Linked DNA regions of Homo sapiens: region 2 is linked to region 1. A link means that fine-mapping ties the variant in region 1 to the expression of a gene that starts in the linked region. Tissue or cell type: hypothalamus. Region 1 holds a variant in brackets; the other region holds the start of a gene. All regions are shown on one strand. Distances are between the middles of the regions.

What was found. PIP is the estimated chance that this variant, and not a neighbour inherited with it, causes the effect.
Region 2: PIP5K1A starts here. The variant in region 1 is fine-mapped to the expression of PIP5K1A in hypothalamus (GTEx, PIP above 0.99). The same link has a PIP of 0.9 or more in cerebellar hemisphere and whole blood.

What each region holds. Positions count from the first base shown.
Region 1 is chr1:151,309,243-151,317,343 of GRCh38, reverse strand. PI4KB (phosphatidylinositol 4-kinase beta) reads left to right here. Exons shown (of 12, transcript NM_001369623.2): 2 at 835-1,771; 3 at 7,089-7,133. The coding sequence starts at 863. Among named protein-coding and RNA genes, the nearest start is that of PI4KB, 14 kb to the left of the region's middle. RefSeq lists an enhancer at 5,497-5,791. The variant C/T (reference allele first, on the strand shown) is at 3,997.
Region 2 is chr1:151,193,801-151,201,898 of GRCh38, reverse strand. PIP5K1A (phosphatidylinositol-4-phosphate 5-kinase type 1 alpha) reads right to left here and starts at 3,347. Exons shown (of 16, transcript NM_001135638.2): 1 at 2,818-3,347. The coding sequence starts at 2,902. It overlaps LOC124904419 (a long non-coding RNA gene), which reads left to right and starts at 3,374. Exons shown (of 2, transcript XR_007066620.1): 1 at 3,374-3,448; 2 at 3,559-3,792. RefSeq lists enhancers at 2,870-2,949, 3,050-3,249.

The DNA of each region.
Region 1 (8,101 bases):
CCCTGTCTCAAAAATAATAAGATTAAAAATTTAAAAATAAGCCAGGCATGGTGGTGTGCACCTGTGGTCCCAGCTACTTGGGAGGCTGAGGTGGGAGGCTTGCTTGAGCCCAGGAGGTCAAGGTTGCAATGAGCCCAGATTGTTCAACTGCACTTCAGCCTGGGTAACAGAGCAAGACCTTGTCTCAAAAAAAAAAAAAAAAAAGAATTTGTAAATGTAGGCCAGGTGCAGTGGCTCACGCCTGTAATCCCAGCACTTTGGGAGGCCGAGGTGGGTGGATCATGAGGTTGGGAGATGGAGACCATCCTGGCTAACATGGTGAAACCGTGTGTCTACTAAAAATACAAAACAAAATTAGCTGGACGTTGTGGTGGGCGCCTATAGTCCCAGCTACTTGGGAGGCTGAGGCAGGAGAATGGTGTGAACCCGGGAGGCGGAACTTACAGTGAGCTGAGATTGCGCCACTGCACTCCAGCCTGGGTGACAGAGCGAGACTCCGTCTCAACAACAACAACAACAACAACAACAAAAAGAATTTGTAAATCTATATAAATACAACATATACAAAACAACATTTCACATATATAAGCTAAGAACAGAGGCTAAGCTGAGTAACTACAGGAGGAATGACGAGTAATGTAATCAGAAGTGGAGGTAGTCAGGAAAGCTTCCTAGGATATGTCTTCTTATCTGATTTTGAAGGAGTCCAGGAAGACAAAAAGAGGAGGTGCCTGGGAAGGTGTCATAGCAAAGGGAAGATCTGAGGATGGCACCACTAACCAATGTGTGTATGTGTCTCCCTTTCTGTTCTTTTCTCCCTCCCTCTTCCTGTAGCTTGGAAGCTCGAAGTCTGGCTGTGGCCATGGGAGATACAGTAGTGGAGCCTGCCCCCTTGAAGCCAACTTCTGAGCCCACTTCTGGCCCACCAGGGAATAATGGGGGGTCCCTGCTAAGTGTCATCACGGAGGGGGTCGGGGAACTATCAGTGATTGACCCTGAGGTGGCCCAGAAGGCCTGCCAGGAGGTGTTGGAGAAAGTCAAGCTTTTGCATGGAGGCGTGGCAGTCTCTAGCAGAGGCACCCCACTGGAGTTGGTCAATGGGGATGGTGTGGACAGTGAGATCCGTTGCCTAGATGATCCACCTGCCCAGATCAGGGAGGAGGAAGATGAGATGGGGGCCGCTGTGGCCTCAGGCACAGCCAAAGGAGCAAGAAGACGGCGGCAGAACAACTCAGCTAAACAGTCTTGGCTGCTGAGGCTGTTTGAGTCAAAACTGTTTGACATCTCCATGGCCATTTCATACCTGTATAACTCCAAGGAGCCTGGAGTACAAGCCTACATTGGCAACCGGCTCTTCTGCTTTCGCAACGAGGACGTGGACTTCTATCTGCCCCAGTTGCTTAACATGTACATCCACATGGATGAGGACGTGGGTGATGCCATTAAGCCCTACATAGTCCACCGTTGCCGCCAGAGCATTAACTTTTCCCTCCAGTGTGCCCTGTTGCTTGGGGCCTATTCTTCAGACATGCACATTTCCACTCAACGACACTCCCGTGGGACCAAGCTACGGAAGCTGATCCTCTCAGATGAGCTAAAGCCAGCTCACAGGAAGAGGGAGCTGCCCTCCTTGAGCCCGGCCCCTGACACAGGGCTGTCTCCCTCCAAAAGGACTCACCAGCGCTCTAAGTCAGATGCCACTGCCAGCATAAGTCTCAGCAGCAACCTGAAACGAACAGCCAGCAACCCTAAAGTGGAGAATGAGGATGAGGTAAAATTCTGGGGAGGGCCAGAGACAAAAGGTGGTAGAGGGCTGCATGGAGACAGGATGCCTCCTATATACACACAGGGTTACGCTGTTCTTTCTGTCCTCCCTGTTTCATTTCACTGATAAAAGCATGGAATGTTAGAATGGAAAGGCCTTAGAATTCATGTATTTTGCCTGCCTTAGTTTACAAAGGAAGAACTCAGACCCAGAGAGATAAAGTGAGTTGCCTCAGGTCATATAGGTCATGGCAAGGCTGACGCTCCTGACTGTGTCCCAAATCATTTTTATTAAACTGCACTGGCCAGGCGCGGTGGCTCACGCTTGTAATCCCAGCACTTTGGGAGGCTGAGGCAGGCAGATCACGAGGTCAGGAGTTTGAGACCAGCCTGGCCAACATGGCAAAATCCCATCTCTACTAAAAATACAAAAATTAGCCAGGCGTGGTGGTGGGCGCGTGTAATCCCAGCTACTTGGGAGGCTGAGACAGGAGAATCACTTGAACCTGGGAGGCAGAGGTTGCAGTGACCAGAGATCGCGCCACTGCACTCCAGCTTGGGCGACAGAGTGAGACTCCGTCTCTAAATAAATAAATAAATAAATAAACTGCCATTCCATTAACATCTACTATGTTAATGAGAACTGTGGCAGAAGCCCTCCACACCCTGACCTGAGACTTGAGATAGCTACCAGAGCCTCTCAGAGCAGCATCTGTGGGAAAGGAAAAGGTACTATTGTCTTTCTGTGTGCTGGGGTAGGGGAGATGTTAGAACATCGGCTTCATTCTCCTGGCCACTCCTCCTCATAATCTAATCCCTTTTCACTACCCTCTGAAGATCCTACCTTTTGTTGACATAAGTGTAAGGTTTATTTCTTATCACTGAGGCATCTGGAGAATGCCTTCATTGCCTGCCTTTCCTTAGGGGGAAGAGTGCCTTGCTGGTATCTTTCCCATACCATTTGGGAGAAGCACAAAGGGAAGAGAAAGCACTCTTAGTATAGAGTAAATATAGTGCCTAGTCAAGGACCTGGAGGCTGGGAAGAAGAGGAAGCTACAGCAGCAGTTGGAGGTATAACTTAGGATATAGAGCAGGGAAGAGGTGGCCACATGAATAGGTTATACCCACTCTTCACTCCACATCTGGACAGATAGCAGGGAAAGCTGCCCAGTGGACTACCAAGTGTCAGTGACCTGGTGTCCCAGCCAGACAATGGTGCTCCAGTCCTCCCCTCTGACTCACCATTGGCCAGGCTCCCATCCTGGCTTCCAACCCAGCCTAGAAAAGAGGGAGAAAAAAAGGAGGAATTTGCACTTTTTGAAAAATGCGGATAGCTATGGTCTTGGCATCTGCCTCTGTGGGGCATATAACCCACCCACGTTTTTGATACAATGGGACTTCTTTCAAATAGAGGGAAGTCAGAGTGACTAGAGAAAAGGAAGAGGGAGGGAGACTATAGAGCCTGCTCTCTGGAAATTTGGAATTTTGTTAGGATAGTTTAATAATGGTAAAGCTAAAAGTGCTAACATTTATTCAGCACTTATGTGCCAGGCATCTTGCCAAGTACTTTACATTTAATCCTCACAACCATGCTGAGAGACAGGTATTATTTTGCCAGCAAGGAAACTGAGGCTTAGAAAGATTAGATGTTTTGCCCAAGGTCCCTCAACTAGTGAATGTCAGACCAGGACTCAAATCTCCAGCTGGTGCTCATAATCATTCAGCTGAACTACCTTGGTTATTTCTCAATATCTACTTCCCAAGGTCCCCAGCTGTCAGAAGCCATGTGGGGAAGAACGGCCCAGGCTATGGCCATCTGAGCTTCCACATCCATGCACAGGCAAAGCCAAAACTGTTGTCAGAACTAGAATGAACCGTTTTCATATCTGGTTGAGCTTGGCAGCAGAGCCCTGGGTCATGAAGAGAAGTTGCTGCAGAACAAGAAGAGTCATCCAGATTCTAGTGGAACATGAAGGGTTGGATAGCTGTCTCATCTTGGAGTCAAACCTGTAGCAGAGGGTGAGCAGCTGGAAGTGAATTCCTTGGTGCCTCTTGTCAGGCTTGGCTTTTCTCTTTATCCATTTTGTAGTGCTCATCTTAGGACCAGAAAAGCTGAGGCCTCAGGGCTTTTCTTACTCTGCTGATCCTTGGTCCCTCTTTCCTTACATCTAACTCCCACTCCAGGATAAGATTATGGATGGCACTGAGAGGCAGGTATTAGGTGAATACTTA[C/T]ATCATTTAGGGTGGGTTCTGTAGCTGCCGTTCTTCCAACCTGACTCCTTATCTTGGGTCACTAGATCCAGGAGAGGAAGGAGATACTATGTTCCCAGGCACTCCTGCGTTATCTGATACTGACAGAATGAAATACCTGAATTCATTATGGCTCCACAGAAAATGGGAGAGCAAGAAAGAGACAGAAACATGAATATCACTAGGTTTCTAAGCATTAGAGTCGTCAGCACAGGGGTCTCTCCCAGCCCTTTTCCTTCCATCCGTCCTTCCTTCCTTCCTTCCTTCCTTCCTTCCGCCCACCCGTCTGTCTGTCCGTCCGCCCTTTTTCTTGCAACAGGGTCTTGCTCTGTTGCCCAGGCTGGCGTGCAGTGGCACAGTCATAGCTCACTGTAGCCTTTAACTCCTGGGCTCAAGCAATCCTCCCATCTTAGCCTCCCAAGTACCTGGGGCTACAGCTATGTACCACCACACCTGGCTAATTTTTAAAAAATTTTTTTGTAAAGATGAGGTCGTGCTCTATTGCCCAAGCTAGTCTCAAACTCCTGGCTTCAAGTCATCCTCTCGCCTCAGCCTCCCAAGTCACTGGGATTACAGGCATGAGTGACTAGACCCAGCCCCTTTGGCATTTTGAGGATGCGTCTGTCAAGGCTTTTGTCCCCTAAATACCAAAGGAATTGGTTTTCCTTTTACTCATCCTTCTTCCCTTTCATGTAACATTCATTCACTCAACATGTAGTTATTGACTTTGTACAATGTCCAAAGCCGTGAGCTGTGCTGTGGAGGACGGGGGATAAAATGTTATCCTTCCCTCTAGGAACATGTGAAGTAATAATGAAAACCCCAGTATCTATGGAACTGTTTAGTTTGTGACTCTCTTGAAAAAGTTGTTTTCTGCCATAAGCAGGAAGTATACAGCTTACTAAAATGAGGCACATAATTATCTAAGACCTAAGCAGAGATACTCTAGGAGAATCTCTAGGTAGACCCTAACACTCTGCTCCCAGTCTCTTGCTTTTCTTTTAGGTTCTGAGTTTAATACTATGCTCCTACCACCAGTAGAGGGGCTCCCAAGGATGAGGTCGGGCCTCAAAGAAGAGGCTCAGGGGCAGCATGTACAGTTCTCTTCCTGCCCATGGTCTCCCTGCAGAGTTGTTCTCTGCTCAGCTCTCACAGTGTTCTCTTTCTTACTATGAGGAATCCTTTACACTCTCTCCCACAGTCAGAAGGCTTTGTGCTGATTTTTCACATTTTCCACCACTGCTCCTCAAAGCCTGCCGCTTCAAAGCCATTTTATCAGCCTAGTCGGGGAACTCTGCCCAGGCAGTTTGTCCTCCCATTTGTAACCAAATGGCAAATATTTTGGTATAGAATGGGGGAGCTAAAAGGAGAGAGTGATTTAGGTATCACACCCTCCCCGATATGATGACACTGTTAGTAGATTAGCTTTGTCTTTTCAGGACTGCAACCTTTGTACAGAGAAATCTGCCGCATGTCACACTGGAAGCCCCAGTAGGCCTTCTAGCTTGATATGGTGTGATGTCAGCTTCTTGCTTCATCTTTACTCCCCGGAGCTGACTCAGTGTGAGTGACTCAAGCCCAGGGAGTAGGAGAGGAGCAGGTCATGATATACCTCCCTTCCCCCAGGGCTGTCAATGAGTCAGACAGGACCTGTCTGTGACAGAATCAGCTGGAGCGTTGCTCAGGGAGCCAATATCTTGCCTGCTGTTCCTTCTCCAACCAGCTCATAGGTAGAAATAGAACCACTAATTCATAATAGACTCTGACATCCTCACTGCCTTAATTCTCCCACCACCTTCTACCCAAAATGGAAGAGTTGTTGCCTTAGGGGCATGTTTCCAAATGTGGCTTCTCCCTCAAAGTGCTCCAGTCCCCAGATTCTTCAAGGAAGGACCTGACTATAGGACCTCCAGCTAGAATAGAACTGAAACCATGGAATTGAGTTCAAGTGGATGCTTGAATCTACTCAGCAGATTTCAGAGTAGAAACTCACCACTGCCCTCCTGCCCTGGGAGCTCTTAGGACTTTGTCTTTTAAGTCTAACCTCCCCCACCCCGACCTCAACGTCCCCCACAACCTAGATTTGTGCACACGTGCTGCTCTGTTCCCTGCCCTGGTAGACCATGTTGGACAGAACCCAGGATGAGCCCTGTGCATGAGTGTTGCCTCAGAGCTGCTGAGTGAGAGTTTGACACCATCTCTTTCCCCTGTTTTTGCACACGGACACATATGACACAGCAATGGGGTGATGTTTAGATAAATCCTCTGGGCTGGGACTAGGACAGCTGCTATCCAGCTAGTCAGCTTTCTAGATGGATATAGCTAACTCCCCAACTTATATCAAAAATTGTAGTATATTGATTGTCATGTGGATAGCCTGATAGGAAGCCTAAGGAGGTTTGGTAGATAGGAGATTGATTTATCCTTCACTCCCATCAGCATCCAGCCCAGAGATTTTGGGCTTATTGGTCTAGGATGCTCTTTGTCACAGAGGTTCAAGGTTGGGATTCAGCTTCCCAGGGTGATAATGAGGCTAATTAGAGAAGAGGTATACCTGCCACTGAAAGTTTAGCTTTTCTTCCTCCCTGAGGTTTCCAAAAAGCTGGAGGAACATGGGGTTTCCAGTATGGGAGCCATGCAGCTTATTAAGTTCAGTCCTGTGGTGGTCCCCATGGAGAAGGATTTGGTTGAGAGCATGTGAGTGGGTAAAAAAAAAGAGCAGGGAAGCTTGGCAGTGCAGTTACTGCCCTAGGGACCCAGCTTTAGAGCTTTGGCCTAGAAGGAAGATCCATTCAGTTGAGAATAGAAGTGAATAAAGTGAAAAGCAGAGGCTGCTTTGTCTCTTCAGTCCTTCTGACCTTAAAGTCTGAGCTGCCCTTCCAGCATCTCCTACAAGTGGTCAAGCATCTGGGCAAGTAGCATTTCTGAGTTGACTTTCTTTTATTAAAGCAGAAAGGTAGAACTTCACTAGAGAAGCAGTTACGATCCAAGTTGGAGCTAAATTCTTTACCTTTGTCTCTCTCCCCTCCCTTCCCACCCCCTCCTTCTCCCTTTGCCCTCTGGCCCTTTCCCAGGAGCTCTCCTCCAGCACCGAGAGTATTGATAATTCATTCAGTTCCGTAAGTGGGGCCAGGCTGGGACGGGGTGGCAGGCTCCCCCAGTGGCCGCATTTCCTCTCCGTCCCCAGGTCTTCTGAGCCCCCAGGCCAAGGCTGGAGTTAAAATGCCCCTTTTCTTACTGGGAGATCAGCTCCTCCCTCCCAGACCTCCCAGATCTGCTGGAGTTCCCCTGACCTTTGCGGTGGAAATCCTGAGCCCAGGCTGAGATGAGCTCAGCTGATCCTTCTCTCAGAGACAGCTGGAGTACAGTGCTGCTCAGCCCCCAGCTCCTGAGTGTCTGGAGCAAACAGCTGGGAGAGAGGTAGAATTCACTCCTGGATTAGAGCCAAAAACTGCCTGGCAGAAACCCCCAGGATCCTGTTTCTCCCACCCAGAACCCTTTCCCCATGGCTTCTGCCGTCAGATTATCAAATATTTATTCATAATCTTCTAAATGCTAGGCCCTGTGCTGGTGAGCTGACTCCAAAAACAAATAGGACTTGGCCTGAAGGAAAGTTTTGCCTCTCCACAACTGGTTTTCTTTTTTAACTTCAACCACATTTTTTCCAGGTCTGAGTTCTTCCCTTTTCCCAGCTCACTGCCCAGGATGTTCCTTAATCCCCTCTCCTTTCTTGTTCCCTCTGGACTAACCCCTGACCCTTTGGTCCCACAGGGTCTTGGACCTTGTTGCTGGGCAAAGACGTGAGAGGAAATGCAGGACCTCTGGGAGTTTGGCTGATTTTTTTTATATTTTCTATTTGATTTGTCTATCAAATCAGTTTTCTCTGTTCTGTGCTAATCCCCTTTCAGTCATGATTCCTATCTCCTCTCATGTGGCAGAGCCTCTCTCTTGAGGCCTGGGGTCACATTTCTAACATGCTCACGTAACTTAGGGGCCCCTAACCCAAATGCTGATTTGAGAATGGGAAGGAATTCTGCCTTTTCTAATCTGAGATGATTATGAATTGGGTGGGGTAGAGGGTCCTTGG
Region 2 (8,098 bases), 120 kb after region 1:
GAAATTTAGCCACTTTTTGCCCCCTTTTTTTTGTTTTGAGACAGAGTCTTGCTCTGTCACCCAGACTGGAGTGCAGTGGTGTGATCTCGGCTCACTGCAACCTCTGCCTCCCGGGTTCAAGCAATTCTCCTGACTCAGCCTCCTAAGTAGCTGGGATTACAGGCCTGCGCCAACATGCCTGGCTAATTTTTTTGTATTTTTTAGTAGAGATGGGGTTTCACCATGTTGGCCAGGCTGGTCTCGAACTCCTGACCTTGCGATATGCCTGTAATCCCAGCATTTTTGGAGGCCGAAGTGGGCGGATTACTTGAGGTCAGGAGTTCAAGACTAGTCTGGCTGACATGATGAAACCCCATCACTACTAAAAACACAAAAAAATAAAATAGCCAGGCATGATGGCACATGCCTGTATTCCCAGCTACTTGGGAGACTGAGTCAGGAGACTCATTCGAAGCTGGGAGGCAGAGGTTGCAGTAAGCCAAGATGGCACCACTGCACTCCAGCCTGGGTGACAGAATGATACTCTGTCTCAAAAAAAAAACCACAAAAACATTTATACAATCTGTATTATTAACTGTTAGTGAGAGGATCTGACAGAAAACATAAAGACCTACAAAAATACCAAAGAGTACAAAGCAAACACCTGACTTAATAGTTGAGAAGTTTGTTTATGGACCATACACAACCCTTCTTCTTTCTGGGTTGGGGATTAGAGGGGAAGCAGGTTTCAAATTAAGGAGCTACTCTATTAAAAATAAAAACCCAGGTGGGGCACGGTGGCTCACGCCTATAATCCCAGCACTTTGGGAAGCCAAGGCGGGCGGATCACAGGGTCAGGAGATCGAGACCATCCTGGCTAACACGGTGAAACCCCGTCTCTACTAAAAATACAAAAAACAAAATTAGCCAGGCGTGGTGGTGGGCGCCTGTAGTCCCAGCTACTCGGGAGGCTGAGGCAAAAGAATGGCGTGAACCCGGGAGGCAGAGCTTGCAGTGAGCCGAGATGGCCCCACTGCACTCCAGCCTGGGCGACAGAGCGAGACTCCGTCTCAAAAATAAATAAATAAATAAATAAATAAATAAATACCCTGTCACTTTTACTTTATCCTATTTCATGCTTATAATGCAGCATGAGTTGTTCTGGTCCCCTAATACTTTTATAGGAAAGGTAAAAAATCCCCTCTCAACAAACTAAAAATAGAGATTTATTAAAAATAAATAAAACTGCAGCTTATTAAGAAGATATGTGTGACTAGATATTTCAGCATCTGAGCTGGAATGTGAAAGGTGGAAGGAACCCTATTCAGCAAATTCTAAACAGCAAAAACGCAACACCAGGCCTGAGGAAATACCAAAATCTCAAGCAAAGCATCCAACATCTGGCAGCGTCTATTCCAGTGTAGAAGCAGCAGTTACTGTGAAACACCAGACACTTCTGATGGAAGCGCTCAGTTTCTGACTCACCTCCCGCCCCCCCACCCGACACACATACACACACTTTCTCCCCTACACACAATCTACTGCTTTTCTTGTGAGCCTCCTCAGCCCTCCCTCAATCTTCATTCGTTTTTAACTATTAATACGCTGAGCTCTCTACATTAACCTGGCTCCATTCTCCAAATTCCAATCTCCTGATACAGCGTAAGCATTCTTCCAGTCCATTTTTCTATTATGCAATACTCCCCCACAACACTTACAGTCACCCCCCCACCCATCTTTCTTCTTCTCAGGCCTAATTTCCAAAACATCACTTCTCGCAGTCTCTACTGCAATTCAAGACTCCATTCCATCTTTCCCATCTGTTTTTAAGGTCTTTGACCTTAATTTCCTACATTCCTTAGACTCTCTTCAAAATTTCCATTCCTTCCCAAAGTTGGGCAGTTTAGAGTTGGGAATCACCAAAGGAATTAGTCTGAGAAAGTATGTATGTGTGTCTGTGTGCCTGTGCGGCCCTAAGGGTGGGGGTGCGAAGTGAGAAGGGGTGACACATTAGGGGGGAGTATCTGAGGGAAAAGATGGCTTCAACAACTCCCGCCCACCCAACAAAATTCACGATTCCCTACCTCTCCAGAAATCGAAAGCGTCCAATAACTTTTCGATATCTTTTAAGTCCCATGGCTTCTCTTCAACATTTTCATCCAATTAGCCCACAATCAACTTAGATTCCACCTGCCTCTCACACTAAGTAGTTCTCTCTACTTCTTAGGCCTCCATTTACTTTCTTAGTTTCTCTACTCCCTTCCGTTTCTCTTGTTTCCTACCGCAACTTCTTTTTTTTTTTTTTTGAGACAGGGTCTCACTCTCTCGCCCAGACTGGAGAGCAGTGGCCCAATCTCGGCTCACCGCAAGCTCTGCCTCCCAGGCTCAAGGGATTATCCTGCCTCAGCCTCCCAAGTAGCTGGGATTACAGATGCACGCCACTACTGTCCGGATAATTTTTGTATTTTTAGTAGGGACGAGATTTCTCTATGTTGGCCAGGCTCGTCTCGAACTTCTGACCTCAAATGATCCGCCCGCCAAGGCCTCCCAAAGTGCTGAGATTACAGGCGTGAGCCACCGCGCCGGGCCACCCTACCCCCACCTTCAATCTCCATCCGTCCTCCTCAAAGACAACCAAAGTTTTCGACAACTTCTTAATCAAACTTATCCTTTCCTCAAACTCCTGCCCGCTCATAAATCCCTATTTGAAAGCCCAGCTCGCGCCCACTTACCGGTAACACGTAGGACATTCCCAGCTACAGGTACCCTCTTAGGTCTCGCTCTTCCTCCCATCGCATATTCCTCACCAGCTCCCTACCCACGCCCTGCCGGGCTTACCTGAGGACAAGGTACAGGAAGGGACCGCGGGATCAAAGGATGAAAAACCGACCGAAGACGACGGCCCGGAGGAGGCCGACGCCATCTTAGCAGCCCCCTCCCCCTCAGCGGCCTGGCTCTCTTTCAATCCGGTTCTTCCTCTTCTCGGAATCGAATCTTCCCAACGTCTCTTTACAGAACCCGCGTTCTGTGGGCCACCTCCCCGCCCCCTCCGGGGCCTCCCTCAGACACGTCGAGCCGGCTCCTGGACCAGCTCAAGGCCACACCATTCGCCTGGCATGGGGAAGAACTCACGTCCCGCACCCCCTCCACAAGTTTAACCGCTTTCCACAGGGGATACTTTCCCCTTTCACAGAAGAGTAAGCTTAAGCTGGCTGCTGGGACCTTGCGCCCAGACCAAGCCACATCTGAAAAAAAAACGAGGCATGAAAAGTCCCAAAGGAGCGAACGCCCCTTCTCCGTCCTTCCTAACCACGGCCTGTTAATCGCCCAACCCGGCCGCTTCACTCCGGGTAGCCAAGCAAAAAATCCGAGCACTGCGCATGCGCCCGACCTTCTCGGGGCATCAGCCCACTCATTGGGGAGAAAAAAGGAGCAAAACCAATCGGGAGGCTGCTAATGGTCACGTGAGGTGGGTCCTCACGCCCTGACGAGTCCACGGGTGGAAGATGTGCGCGCGCGGGTTGGCCGACAGTCCCTACGGTGGCTCGGCAGGTCCTCTTAGGTTCAGTTCTTTGCTAGGACTGGGTCGAGTGATCTGAACTCGGGACAAGAGTCGGTCCGCCAAGTCCTCTGAAATTCCTAACCCAGGAAAGAACTCTCTGCGGGAGTACTGGTGTCAAGTCAGAGACGTTAAGGTGTCGAATATCACAAAACATTTAATACCACCAAGAACTCTTCTTAGTCTTTTTCCTGTTTTACTACTCTTGTTTACTATTTGATTAAACGTGCGTGCATGTCTTACCTTCCTCGGAATGGCATTCGAAATAGATCTGTGTTTTGTTTGCCTCAAGCACAAAGTTAGGCACTGCACAGTGACGGAGTTCAGTAAATATTTGATGCATGAATCAGTGAAGACCTGTCAAAAAAGGGCACGGGAGGCTATCAGGGACTTATCACAACCTTCCCGCGACCCAACCCCTTTAGCCTCCAACTGTCAATTATCTGTGCTCCAAAGGGCATGGAGATACACAGAAAAATTTCTCCCATTGTAGTCTTCGTAGTAACTGCTCGTTTTTAACAAAGTACCCCGTAGGCTATGAACCCTGGTGGGAAGACCAGTCTCTCTGAGCAGACTGTAAAACTTCTGGGGAGCAAGGACTGTGTTTGGTTCACTCTTGTATCTCCAGCTCCTCCAGTGACTTCGTACATAGTAGGGGCTCCATAATTATCTGTGGAATGAATAAATAAAGAGGAATGGTAAAACATTCGGGGTAAGAGTCGGTCAGATAGATCCTCTCAAACTCATGGCCCATGAAATAACTCCATTAAAACAGGTTTTGTGGCCGGGCGCGGTGGCTCACGCCTGTAATCCCAGCACTCTGGGAGGCCGAGGCGGGTGGATCACGAGGCCAGGAGATCGAGACCATCCTGGCTAACACGGTGAAACCCCGTCTCTACTAAAAATACAAAAAATTAGCCGGGCGTGGTGGCGGGCGCCTGTAGTCCCAGGCTACTCGGGAGCCTGGGGCAGGAGAATGGCATGAACCTGGGAGGCGGAGCTTGCAGTGAGCGGAGATCGCGCCACTGCACTCTAGCCTGGACGACAGAGCGAAACTGTCTCAAAACAAAACAAAACAAACAAACAAAAAAAACAGGTTTTGTAACCCCCAGAATGACCTGGTTATCCTCTTTCCAGATGTCTTGTGGGTCCTCATAAAGTAACCTAGGACCCGAACATCCATAGAATATCCCCATGCAGGCCGGGCGCCGTGGCTCACGCCTGAAATTCCAGCACTTTGGGAGGCCGAGGTAGGTGGATCATCTGAGCTCAGGAGTACGAGACAAGCCTGGCCAACATAGTGAAACCGCGTCTCTACTAAAAATACAAAAAATTAGCTGGGCGTGGTGGCGGGTGCCTGTAATCCCTGCTACTCGGGAGGCTGAGGCAGGAGAATCGCTTGAACCCAGGAGGCAGAGGTTGCAGTGAGCCAAGATCGCGCCATTGCACTCCAGCCTGGGCAACGAGAGCGAAACTCAGTCTCAAAAAAAAAAAAAAAAAGGCCGGGCGCAGTGGCTCACGCCTGTAAGCCCAGCACTTTGGGAGGCCGAGGCGGGCGGATCACCTGAGGTCGGGAGTTCAAGACCAGCCTGACCAACATGGAGAAACGCCGTCTCTACTAAAAATACAAAATTACCCAGGCGTAGTGGAGCATTCCTGTAATCCCAGCTACTCGCTACGCCGGAGGCTGAGGCAGGAGAATTGATTGAACCTGGGAGGCAGACGTTTCGGTGAGCCGAGATGGCGCCTTTGCACTCCAGCCTGGGCAACAAGAGCGAAACTCCAACTCAAAAAAAAAAAAAAAAAAAAATCCCCATGCATTTACTGCAGCCTTCTACTCCTCCCTTATGAAGATCTAAGATAATTGTTTCCCTGCTGCCACCTGCTGGATTATTCGTCTTCCTTTGGGCACCGAAAGTAGACAAAATCTTGTTTGTAATTCCACAGCAGTGGAATTTTGTTGTGTTGAAGTATTTTATAATTCCCTGTACCTATACCCTCCACTCAACTAAACAGGACAGGAACTAGTGAGGGGCACACTGAGCACAGGATTTGGCTCATAGGTATTCAATAAATAAATATTTGTTGAATAAATTATCCTTGTTTTCCGAAAAGGCATAGGATTGCTACCATTTCCTGAGTTACTTTAGAAATCGGATAGTGTAGCCGGACGCGGTGGCTCACGCCTGTAATCCCAGCACTTTGGGAGGCCGAGGCGGGCGGATCACGAGGTCAGGAGATCGAGACCATCCTGGCTAACACAGTGAAACCCCGTCTTTACTAAAAATACAAAAAATTAGCCGGGTGAGTTGGCCGGCGCCTGTAGTAGCCCCAGCTACTCGGGAGGCTGAGGCAGGAGAATGGCATGAACCTGGGAGGCGGAGCTTGCACTGAGCCGAGATCGTGCCACTGCACTGCAGCCTGGGCGACAGAGCGAGACTCCGTCTCAAAAAAAAAAAAAAAAAAAAAAAAAAAATCGGCTGGTGTTGATGTAAAGCTGTTTCTGATTTTAAAATTGGAAACAGACTAATAAATCCCAGAATGACCAACGCAGTCAAACAGAGGAATCTTCTCCCTGTGAGCTAATCTGTGAATTCCATTTTATTTTATTTTTGAGACAGAGTCTGGCTCTGTCACCCAGGCTGGAGTGCAGTGGCGCTTGGCTTACTGCAACCTCCACCTCCCGGGTTCAAGCGATTCTCCTGCCTCAGCCTCCCGAGTAGCTGGGACTACAGGCATGCACCACCACGCCCAGCTAATTTTTTATATTTTTAATTTTTATTTTCATCAAGTACTATTTTTATTTTTAATTTCACCAACTCCCACTCAGTCCCTGGGGCGCCCCCACTCCCACTCAGTACCTGGGGTGTCCTCTGAGTCATGGAACCACTCCTCCCCGGTAACATTCCTGGCATAGTAGAACTGTGGTGACGTGGCAGGGTGTGGAAACAGGGGCAGAGCAGGACATGTTGGCTTAGTGCCCCAAGGAAACAGAAAAGGGAGTTCACCAATACATACTTTGGGAAAGGGGGTACAATCTGATGACCTCAAAGTAGGGCCACAGGTACAGACTTCAGTACATGTGAGTACACACCCACACCTTTATTAAAGTGTCATTCATATCTTAGAACAGTTTCTTTATTTTATTTATTTATTTATTTTATTATTGTTTTTTTTTTGAGACAGAGTCTCCCTCTGTCGCCCAGGCTAGAGTGCAGTGGCGCGATCTTGGCTCGCTGCAACTTCCGCCTCCCGGGTTCAAGCGATTCTCCTGCATCAGCCTCCCAAGTAGCTGGGATTACAGGCACAAACCACCACGTCCGGCTAATTTTTTGTATCTTTAGTAGAGACAGGGTTTCACTGTGTTAGCCAGGATGGTCTCGATCTCTTGACCTCGTGATCTGCCTGCCTCGGCCTCCCTAAGTGCTGGGATTACAGGTATGAGCTACTGCGCCCGGCCAGAAAAGTTTCTAAGATTAGAATGAAGTGATGGGGACTGGCAAGAGCAAGGAAAGGATTCTACAATAAGAGGATGGGCTATTTATTCAATTAATCATTCATTAATTAATTCACTCAATTAACATTATTTAGCCCAAGCTACGTCCCAGGCACTATTAGAGTTCCTGGAATACACAGATGACCATTAAGCCCATCATCAGGCAGGATGGCTCACTCCTGTAATCCCAACACTTTGGGAGCTGAGGCAGGCAGATTGCTTGAGCCCAGGGGTTCAAGACTAGCCTGGGCAACATGGCAAAAATCCTATCTCTACAAAAAATACAAAAATTCGCTGAGCGTGGTGGTGCGCACCTGTAGTCACAGCTACTAAGGAAACTGAGATGGGTGGATCACTTGAGCCCAGGAGGTCAAGGCTGCAGTAAGCTAAAATTGCACCACTACTCTCCAGCCTGGGCGACAGAGCAAAACCATGTCTCCAAAACAATTTTTTTTAATTAAAAAAAGGAAAAGATTAAGCCCCTGCCCTCAAAAAGATCACAGACTAATGAGGGGAACAGACATGTGAATCATTAGAATACAATGTAATAGGTGCCATCATAAAGTTTGTGTAAGTGCTATGGTTTGATAACCATATTTTCAGAATAAAAAATGAGAACAGTCTTTACAACAGACAATATTTGAGATTGGAACTATTCCAGAGACTACAGAAGACATCATCTCCATAGTTATATGAATTGTGCCTGGAAAGAGAGGAATGGGTGTTCAGGAAGACTCCACTCTCCCATAAAATTAGAAAAGAAAGGAAAGGGATTCTAAGGAGAAAGAAAGGCATAGAGGCATGACAGAGAATTGGGTGTTAGGGGAGAGATGCTGGAGTAGTGATGTCGCAGGAGGTGTGACTAGAAGGACAGGGAGAGGCTAAATTATGAAGGATCTGAATACTGAATGCCATGTAGTAGTTACCACCTACTACACATTTACTATGCACTTACTAAACACTGTGCTAAGCAGTTGACAAGAATTATCTCTCTCTGTCTTTTTTTTTTTTTTTTTTTTTTTTTGAGACAGAATGTGGCTCTGTCGCCCGGGCTGGAGTGCAGT